3 linked regions of the Homo sapiens genome follow. The protein of the gene in region 1 interacts with the protein of each later gene in a pairwise test. Each region holds a gene or a part of one and is shown in the gene's direction. Other genes may lie near its edges.

Region 1 (3,500 bases):
TAAATGTTAAAATTAAGTTCATTTCCTGTGTTGCTTTGAGTATAAGGGAGCAGAGGCTGGTCTGGTCTTTATCATTGCCAAGGTGTGGCCTTGGACAGTTGCTTCTCTCTTCTGCCTCAACTTTCTTACCTGTAGAACTGAACCCAGTGAGCTCTGAGTCTTTACACCAGTGCAGTCATAAAATAGGATTTAAATTTATGTATTTTTTTGATACAGGGTCTCACTCTGTCACCCAGGCTGGAGTGCAGTGGCGCAATGATGGTTCACTGTGACCTCCCGGGCTCAAGCGATCCTCCCACCTCAGCTTCCCAAGTAGCTGGGACCACAAGTGTGCATCACTATGCCCGGCTAAATTTTCTTTTTTGTATTTTTGGAGAGACGGGGTTTTACCAAGTTGCTCAGGCTGGTCTCAAACTCCTGGGCTCAAGTGATCTGCCCACTTTGGCCTCCCAAAGTGCTGGGATTACGGGTGGGAGCCACCACGCTCAGTGTATTTTAAATATTTTTTGCCCACAAAGGCAAATGTGTCAAGGGCTCATGAAGTCGTAACGTAGCCCTGCTGAACACTATCCAAAACTTGGCATTAGGAGCGTAGCAGTCCCAGGCAAAGTGGAAACGTGGGGAGAATAAGCAGCCACTTGTCTGGCTACTGCCAGAAATAAAAACACATGCACTGAAGGTGAGTGTAGGAGGCTCCCTTTGTCCCCTGGGCTGTTCCCTGAGCAAACCTGATTCCAAGTTGGCACAATGGAGCAGAAAAGTTCAATAGCCAGACAGCCCGGCTGTGCCCCATGCTGCCTGTATGCGTGTGGGCTAGTCACTTAACCTCTGGGAGCCTCACTGCCTCATTTGGGAAACAATAACATCCCTTCCTTTTTTTTTTTTTTTTTTCTTTAGAGGGAGTCTCGCTCTGTCGCCCAGGCTGGAGTGCAGTCGCATGATCTCGGCTCACTGCAACCTCTGCTTCCCGGGTTCGAGCGATTCACCTGCTTCAGCCTCCCGAGCAGCTGGGACTACAGGTGCATGCCACCATGCCCAGCTAATTTTTGTATTTTTAGTAGAGATGGGGTTTCACCGTGTTGGCCAGGATGGTTTGAATCTCCTGACTTTGTGATCCACCCGCCTCGGCCTCCCAAAATGCTGAGATTACAGGCATGAGCCACCGCGCCTGGCCAGTAACACCCCTTTCATTGGGTTGTTCAGTCATTCAAGTACTCACTCAACATGTGTTTTCTGAGCACCTACTGTGTTCCAGGCACTGTTCTAGGTGCTGAATACACATAACAGTGTGCTCCAGCACGCCTAGTCCAGTGCTGGCACATAGTAGGTTCTCGTTAAACACTTGTTGAATGAATGATTGGAAAACAGGTGGTGGGGAGGTACCAACAATAAATAAGTGAATAAATACATGCTACATACATAATGACAAACACGAACACATAATTCTATCCAATGTAAAATGTAATTACAAAGAACGTAACATGCTAGGAAGGAAAGAAACAGGTGGCAGCGACAGAAGATGATGGGGGTTGGGGGCCAGGACAGGGGAGCATCTGCTCAGATGAAGTGTTCAGGGTGGGCTTCTTTGAGGAGGCCCGACGGGGAGTGATGGGACTGGTCCTTGCTGGTTGCAGGCATCCAGCCCGCACTGTGGAGCAGGGAGGACGTGCTGCACTGGCTGCGCTGGGCAGAGCAGGAGTACTCTCTGCCATGCACCGCGGAGCACGGGTTCGAGATGAACGGACGCGCCCTCTGCATCCTCACCAAGGACGACTTCCGGCACCGTGCGCCCAGCTCAGGTCAGGGAAACGCACAGGCTTTCCTCTAAGCGGGAACCCTGGTAGGCCAGGATGGCCCAAGTACCCCCGGGGGGCCCAGGGAGGGAGATGGAGGGGTCTTCCTTGGGGAATCATGCTCATTTCCAGCACTGCAGATGCCCCTCTGCATACGTGTGTATCTGGTGGTTCCTAGCTAGAGCAGGCCTTCAGCAAGGGAGTCCATTTGACCACTTGTTTTCAGAGCTGTAGGGGCCTGTTCTGCTCTCTCGCTTTCTCTTCCCTTTATCTGTGGCCCTTGTCTCCTCTATCCACTTCCATCCTGTTGCCTCCCACCCGCTACCCCTACTGAACAAAAAACCAACTAGAGAAAGATCAAATATTCATTCACACTGAGGTATAAATGGGTGGTAACAGCAAAATCCTTGACTTCCAATATGACTTTTGATTTTAACCAGAAACTAGGTCTGAGGGCAAAGGAATGAATGTCAGATGATGGTGTTCCAGCAGCACGGAGTTTGTGGGGAGGGACTGGTGGTGGGAGGGAGGGTGGCCAGTGGTAGCGGGCAGCAGGGCCTTCCAGGAACCTCTAGAATCGCATCTGAGTCTTGTGTGGCTTGTTTTCAGTGGCTCTTTTGTTTGTGCTGATTTGGTGTCTTTTTCTTAAGAATTCGCTCATGTTTTCTGTGTTCCTTGTCTTTTGGCCAAGCAAGCCCACAGTGTATTTGGCAAAGAGACGTTCTGAAATCTGCTGATTTGCCTGTTTATACCTAACACATACAGCCCAGTCTCATGTCACATCCCAAGTTCTTTTTTTTTTTTTTTTGAGATGGAGTCTCACTTTGTCGCCCAGGCTGGAGTGTAGTGGCGCGATCCTGGCTCACTGCAACCTCTGCCTCCCAGGTTCAAGCGATTCCCCTGCCTCAGCATTCTGAGTAGCTGGGATTACAGGCGCCTGCCACCACGCCCGGCTAATTTTGTATTTTTGGTAGAGATGGAGTTTTACCATGTTGGCCAGGCTGGTCTCAAACTCCCAACCTCAGGTGATTTGCCCACCTTGGCTTCCCAAAGTGCTGGGATTACAGGCATGAGCCACTGCTCCCAGCTGACATCCCAAGTTCTATCACCCACTTCCCACTGTGAGCCTCCTGTAGCAGCTGCTGGAACTTTCGTCTCTCTAAGAGCTTGGATTCAAGAGCTCTAGTGGGAGGTGAGGGGAGGGCAGGGACAGAGAGACAAGGCTTCCAGCTTCCCCACAGCCCTGATGGTCCTGCACTGAGGCAAAGCGGGGAAGCAGGTGAGCTTGGGGCTGGTCCCCTTCATGCCCTTGTTCGTCTCTCCACCTTCCTACAAGCACTCCTGGTCCTCGAGTGCCCACTGTCTACATTGTATCCCTCTGGCTGCCTGGGATCCCCAGATTGGCTCTCTACCCACAGATCCCCTCTTTCCTGCCCTACTATCAGCACCTTAGCCCAAGGTATGAGTCAAAGAAGATTTCTGGGACCAAGGACAGAGCCCAATTCTGGCTTTTTTTTTTTGAGACAGGGTCTCACTCTATTGCCCAGGCTAGAGTTTGGTGGCGTGAACACAGCTCACTTGTGCCTCAACCTCCTGGGTTCCAGTGATTCTCCTGCCTCAGCCTCCCAAGTAGCTGGGACCACAGATATGCGCACCATACCCAGCTGATTTTTAAAATTTTTGTAGAGACAGGGTCTATCCATGTTG
Region 2 (3,500 bases), about 36 Mb from region 1:
TTCCAAAAAGAAAGCTAATAAACCAGACATGTATTTTGACTTTTCGTTCTCTTCATTCTTTCCCACCAGGCTTGGGCACTGTTTAAAGGAAAGTTCCGAGAAGGCATCGACAAGCCGGACCCTCCCACCTGGAAGACGCGCCTGCGGTGCGCTTTGAACAAGAGCAATGACTTTGAGGAACTGGTTGAGCGGAGCCAGCTGGACATCTCAGACCCGTACAAAGTGTACAGGATTGTTCCTGAGGGAGCCAAAAAAGGTAGGGGCTCTCCTGAATTTGGGTCACCTAACAGAGGCAGCCAGATCCTTGAGGCACCTTAACTTCATTCTGAGCATCACTTTCTAGCTTTCCTTTTGTATTGCCTGCCTGCCTGCCTTCTGCCTCACAGTGAAGCCCAGCCTCCTTGCCTGAGTTATGTGGGTCACAAGTTGAAATTCCTGTGGGGTTCAGCATAGGAGAATTAATCACACTGTATGCCTCAATGTATATGGGGGGGGGTGCATTGAATATGTGTTTTCCAGTTAGTCTTTCAAAAAAAAAAAGAAAAAAGAAAACTGGATAACTTGTTAAAATTTACTTATCTAATAGTCTTTAGTGAGTGACTATTTTGCAGAAAAGGAGTAATGAGAGGAATATCTCATCACTATGCATGGTAATAAAACTGTCAACTTTTAAAGTGTAACATGGTCAGCTGAGGTGTTTATTAAAAGTCAGATTCCTGGACCCCTCTTTTCAAGATTCTGACCAGTGTGTCTGGAAGAGAGCTCAGGAATCTGCATCTGGAACAAATCCTTCAGGTGACCTCACTTGGGAAACATCTGGCTGGCGGGGTCCTTTATGTCACAAGGCACATTCGCATGCCATCTGTCATGTATTTCTTTACCTGTCCTGTACAACTCAGACCTTGTAGAAAAAAATCAGTTTAATAGCATGAAAAAATAACTTCCCAAGGGAGTTGCTGAAAAATACCTTATTTGTCAACACCGTGTTATGCATTCTAAGAATTAAATGCTCAGGTATTTTTACAAGATTTGACATTTAGTTAGGTCAGTTCCTGTTTTTACGTTGTGCCATTTCCCTTTTCCCCAAACATGTAGGAGCCAAGCAGCTCACCCTGGAGGACCCGCAGATGTCCATGAGCCACCCCTACACCATGACAACGCCTTACCCTTCGCTCCCAGCCCAGGTATGGTGGAGGGCACTGGGCTCCCTGAGGGCGAGGCTGTGTGGGCCAGCTGCCCACATGGCCAGAGAACCACAGCAGCCCAGACAGCAGAACTTGCCATTTGCTATGGCTGCTCCAACAGCCCAGAAAAACCCCAGGTCACTGAACGAATGTCTCACTTTCCACACGGTGCTGCCATTGGTGTGGATTTTAAGTTGGGGAGGGTCGGGCGTGTCCGCCTGTTGGAATATGCTTCTCAGGTCTTCTGGGAAACAGATGTTTTGTGGAAGTGGAAGATTTTGGAAGTAGTGCCTTATCATGTGAAACCACAGGGCAGCTGATCTCTTCAGGCTTTCTTGATGTGAATGACAGCTTTGTTTCATCCACTTTGGTGGGTAAAAGAAGGCAAATTCCCCTGTGGTACTTTTGGTGCCAGGTTTAGCCATATGACGAAGCTTTACATAAAACAGTACAAGTATCTCCATTGTCCTTTATGATCCTCCATGAGTGTTTTCACTTAGTCTGATGAAGGGTTCACTCCAGTCTTTTCGGATGATAAAATGCTTCGGCTGTCAGTCTAATAAGGGATTCCCTGAGGAGTTTGGAGGCTGTAAGAGCACCCCCCGTCTCAATGCCAGTGCTTCTTATCTCAGCCTCTCCTGCACTCCTTTACCCCCGTCTCGATGCCAGTGCTTCCTATCTCAGCCTCTCCTGCACTCCTTTACCCCCGTCTCGATGCCAGTGCTTCCTATCTCAGCCTCTCCTGCACTCCTTTACCCCCGTCTCGATGCCAGTGCTTCTTATCTCAGCCTCTCCTGCACTCCTTTACCCCCGTCTCAATGCCAGTGCTTCCTATCTCAGCCTCTCCTGCACTCCTTTAACCCCGTCTCGATGCCAGTGCTTCTTATCTCAGCCTCTCCTGCACTCCTTTACCCCCGTCTCAATGCCAGTGCTTCCTATCTCAGCCTCTCCTGCACTCCTTTACCCCCGTCTCAATGCCAGTGCTTCCTATCTCAGCCTCTCCTGCACTCCTTTACCCCCGTCTCGATGCCAGTGCTTCTTATCTCAGCCTCTCCTGCACTCCTTTACCCCCGTCTCGATGCCAGTGCTTCCTATCTCAGCCTCTCCTGCACTCCTTTACCCCCGTCTCAATGCCAGTGCTTCTTATCTCAGCCTCTCCTGCACTCCTTTAGCAGGTTCACAACTACATGATGCCACCCCTCGACCGAAGCTGGAGGGACTACGTCCCGGATCAGCCACACCCGGAAATCCCGTACCAATGTCCCATGACGTTTGGACCCCGCGGCCACCACTGGCAAGGCCCAGCTTGTGAAAATGGTAAGGAGGATACCAGTGCAGGAAATAGAAGAGCTAATTGCTAATGTGGCCATGGGCCATGGCGAATCCTGGTCTGTCCTGGGCAGCACCAAAGCTCTTTCCCCTTCTTAGAGGCTGCGTGTGCAGCTCGGGGAGAGGGGGGTTTTCTCACTCCTGTGGGATGGTGGCATCCCACAGCCAAGTTTACTCTCAGGATCCATGCTAGGCACTGCCCTTCGTGGGATCTTATTTAAACACCACAGAGATCACTCCAGGCAGTGGAAAACAGCCCCCCACTTTTTATATAGAGAGGAGATTGTGGAAGCTCATAAATAATAAGTAGGGATGCTGGGAGATTATTGAGCTGGTATATTTCTCTCGAATAGTGGTGTGTTCATTGTTGCTATTGTTGGAATTAGAGGTGATACTAAAAAAGGAACGGAAAAATACCATGGCAAACACATAAAACGTCTCTACAGGTGCCTACCTACCACTGGGTCCCAGAAAGACTTGCTGATTGTGGATTAGATGTGGTCCCCTGCCCTCGGGAGTTCCCCAGACATCAAAATGAGCTCCCTCAGCAGAAGCTCTCATTAGCTGGGTGCAGGGAGAATCTAGCAATGCGGTAACTCAGGCCTTCAGGACTTTTGAGTTAGTTACTTAAATGGAAGTCCTGAGACAGGTCAACACACTGAACCCTTTGGATGTTTTAGGAATATTTGTTCCTTTGCAATTTGGCCTTTTTTTCCCCAGTCATGTTCAGGTTATCCTTGGCTGCAGGTAGTGAAGAGGTGTACCACTCTTTAATGTTTGTACTGAGTGGCATGTTCACAAAAAAGCTCAGAATTCAGTTGCATTGGCTTTTCAAGAGGGATTTGCAGCAAGGGCTGGTTTCCAATATGGTAGTGGAGGAATTGGCTAACATAAAACTAGCTCCTGAAATTCAGACTTGCGTTTACTGCTCTGGCTCTATGGAATTAGTAACCATGGGAAAGAGGCAATGCTTAGAACTGTGTAAAG
Region 3 (3,500 bases), on another chromosome or scaffold:
GCTGAGGAGGCAGAAGCTGTATTATAAGGATGAAGCACAAAGTGTGAACAATTTGTTCTGTTCAATCCTACATAAGAAAAAAATGAGAAGAGTTTTCATTGGTCCGTTACTTACATCTTAGAAAGGATTTCTGAAATAAAAATGTATTTCTTTTTTTTTTTTTTTTTGATATGGAGTCCCACTCTGTCACCCAGGCTGGAGTGCAGTGGCACGATCTTGGCTCACTGGAACCTCTGCCTCCTGGGTTCAAGTGATTCTCCTGCCTCAGCCTCCTGAGTAGCTGGGATTACAGGCATCTGCCACCATACCTGGTTAATTTTTGTATTTTTGGTAGAGACAGGTTTTCGCCATGTTGGCCAGGCTGGTCTTGAACACCTGACCTCAGGCGATCCGCCACACTTGGCCTCCCAAAGTGCTGAGATTACAGGTATGAGCTGCTGCGCCCTGACTAAAAATGTATTTCTTGGCCTGGCATGGTGGCTCACGCCTATAATCCCAGCACTTTGGGAGGCTGAGGTGGGTGGATCACTTGAGCTCAGGAGTTTGAGATCAGCTTGGACAATGTGGTGAAAACCTTTCTCTACAAAAAATACAAAAAAATTAGCCAGACGTGGTGGCACATGCCTGTAACCCCAGCTACTTGGAATGCTGAGGTGGGCGGATTGCTTGAGCTTGGGAGGCGGAGGTTGCAGTGAGCCAAGATCAGGCCACTGCATTCCAGCCTGGGCGATAGAGTGAGACCCTTCCACAAAACAAAACAAAACAAACAAACACAATATATATGTATATTTCTCGAATATTAACTTTATTCAGGGAGCTGTTATAAAAAGGGCTAGATGGCCCAACAGATAGTTCCACAAAAGAACAACTGTTTTGCAGAGCAAAAATTACAATTAGCTAATTGCCTACCATCTTCTCTCACACTGTAGAACATACTGTAAATCCACGAATTTCCGCTTCCATTTTGTGAACTGGACATTTATCTAAGGATGTATATAAACAGTATTGGGTGCCGTGTGAGGGGCTGTACATGTTTCCTCTTCTGATCTGATCTTACAACACCCCCAGGACACTATGGCCACATCCAATTTTTTAGCTGAGGAGGTGGAGAGATTAAGCTATCTAACCAAGGTCACATAGTAAGTGAGTGGCAGAGCCATGTTGGAATCAGTTCTGTCTGACTCCAGGACCTGGGCCCTAGATTAGAGCTTCTTAAATGGGTGGAAACCTTTTAGACTGTGACCACAGTTAGAAATACCCTTTACAGTGAGATCCCATATACACACATGTGCACACACATACACACACACAACATAGATTTTCACTGAGCAATACTCTTATGACATGCTCTGCATGCTGACTTTTTCTCTCTATCCTATTTCATTTTTTAAAATGCTGATTGTGATGTACTAGATTGATTTTACAACCCACTGATGTGTCATGACCCACAGTTTGCCTCACTTTTAGCATTCAAACATGGTGACACCTTGGCTGTCTCCTCCAAACTCATGAACAGCCCAGAACTGGATTTAGTTGAATCTGTAATTCCAGTAGAAAGTTTGGCCTTTCCCCAGGGGAGACCAATCTGGGTTGGGGTCATTGTTCTTTGTGATACTGGATTTACTTTCTTTTGCCATGGTATGAAAAGTATTAATATGGAGAATACATTTGAGAAAAGGTATTCCATGAAGACAAATTCAGACACATAACTTTTTGTGTTCATTCATAACTAGTGTCTTGACACTGTTTGAAATCAATGTTAAGAAAAATCATGTGACAAGGTTGATCTATTACAGGAAAAACTGGTGATTTGGTTCATGTTTTAGAGAAGAAAGATGTAATTTCCATATCACTCATAAAAAAGAGGCATTATCAATTTTTTATTAAAAGATCATGCACCTCAGACTAAACCCCACTAAATGCTGGTTCGGGTCTTCTTTCCTTGAAAATGTTTCGTTTCAAAAAAGTGGCTTCACAAAGAATAGGTTTGTTTCCTTGTATCCCAAGCAAGTCCACGGAGACATCTTTCATTAGATGTCAGGGAGCAGTGTTACAATGGGTGGGGATAGGATTTTATAAAGAACATGGGCAGATGAAATGAAAACTTGCTGTGTTAGAGGTGGGATATACTTGTGTGACTGAACCGCTCCTTTCTCCTCCTTCTCCCTTTACTCATTTTCTAATTTCTGCATACCCACTGGGATCACAGCTACTTTTATGACCTCCAATGGGAGAATGTATTTCAATTTAAGTCAGTGAGAAGGTACTTTACGGAAAGTACTTTCTTCTCCCTCACCCCCAAACAAATGAAATTAGATTTTTAAAGTGGGTCCCTGGGAGAAAACGTTGCTGGGGAATCTTTCTGAGTATGAGTCCACCATTTTGAAGCCTTCTATTGATGGTGCCTTGTGTTATCTGCTTTCTATTTCTTTGAAAACATTTTCTGTGTGTTCTCAATGGCTGCTGATTTCCGAACAAGCCTCTCCTACCCTGTTGGCCTCTGTTTTGTCTCTTCTGAAGAAAATATCCTGCAAAATGGAGAAACACATCAACCTTGACTGTGATCCAAGTTATTAAAACAAGGAAGAAGTTATTCTCTGGGGACTCGGGTAGGGGGAGTGGGAAATCGAACACAATAGAAATGTGAAAGGAGTGCTCAGCAAAATGAATGTCCCTTTGCTGGTCCAAGAAGTTCACAGGCTGTTGGGAACACACAGTATTCAACCTGTGGATGCTTGAGAGGAAAAACAAAAAAGACTCAACAATGAGTGATGTGTGGTGAAAACAAAGCTGTGCGTTTTGGTAGGGCCAAGGCTGTCGAATCTGGAGAAAATCCCCGCTAGACATGGTCTCATCCCTGAGAACCTGTGCCAAAAGAGATAGCTGTCTTCTCTGGCTGGGAGCTCCAATACACAGCCCAGCACCTTCCCTCGCGGGCTCGTGAACATAAGGTATCCGTCCAAGAGATTTACTTCTTGGAAATAGATAGCTTGCTTTTAAGTGGCTCCCGGAGCCTGAGATGCAAAGTGAAGGTGGGGAGCCTCAGTTCTGTGAATATCAGCATTGCCGAGCCTACTCCATCTCCACCCCCAGCAACAAGTTATTAATTTTCCACCGTTTAAAGTTTCATTTAATGCCATTTAAAGAGTTTTTTTTCTTTATTATTGCCTTGCATTGGACTTGGCCTGAGGTCTGTTAACCCTGCCAACCAGAACGAAGAATGGGACTCCAGGGTTTGATAAAGATGGAGACTCGTGACTTAGCTCTGTGTCCCTCTCACTTAGTGTGGACTGATTCGGAAGCTTCTTTCCTTTGCTTCTCACTTTTCTGCTTCTTCTTTCTCCTCCCTGGCTGTTGGCCTTTTCTATCCTTTTATTTTTGGACATGCATTTGATGAATGTATTGAATTTTTTTATTATGTAAGTAATGTGTATAAATTATAGAACAGTTAGAAAATACAACTACGCAGAGAAGGAAATTAAAACTCCCCCCAAAAGCCT

What was found.
Region 2: the proteins of ETV7 (region 1) and IRF4 interact in a two-hybrid assay, tested with the Homo sapiens proteins (one large-scale study listed by BioGRID and IntAct).
Region 3: the proteins of ETV7 (region 1) and WT1 interact in a two-hybrid assay, tested with the Homo sapiens proteins (one large-scale study listed by BioGRID and IntAct).

Annotation. Positions count from the first base shown.
Region 1 is NC_000006.12:36,374,170-36,377,669, reverse strand, and holds part of ETV7 (transcription factor ETV7), read left to right. Parts: intron 1-1,634; coding exon 1,635-1,799; coding exon of another isoform or gene 1,800-1,840; intron 1,841-3,500. UniProt on the Homo sapiens protein: Transcriptional repressor; binds to the DNA sequence 5'-CCGGAAGT-3'. Isoform A does not seem to have a repressor activity. Isoform C does not seem to have a repressor activity.
Region 2 is NC_000006.12:394,752-398,251, forward strand, and holds part of IRF4 (interferon regulatory factor 4), read left to right. Parts: intron 1-69; coding exon 70-256; intron 257-1,095; coding exon 1,096-1,184; intron 1,185-2,356; coding exon 2,357-2,501; intron 2,502-3,500. UniProt on the Homo sapiens protein: Transcriptional activator. Binds to the interferon-stimulated response element (ISRE) of the MHC class I promoter. Binds the immunoglobulin lambda light chain enhancer, together with PU.1.
Region 3 is NC_000011.10:32,411,540-32,415,039, reverse strand, and holds part of WT1 (Wilms tumor protein), read left to right. Parts: intron 1-3,500. UniProt on the Homo sapiens protein: Transcription factor that plays an important role in cellular development and cell survival. Recognizes and binds to the DNA sequence 5'-GCG(T/G)GGGCG-3'. Regulates the expression of numerous target genes, including EPO.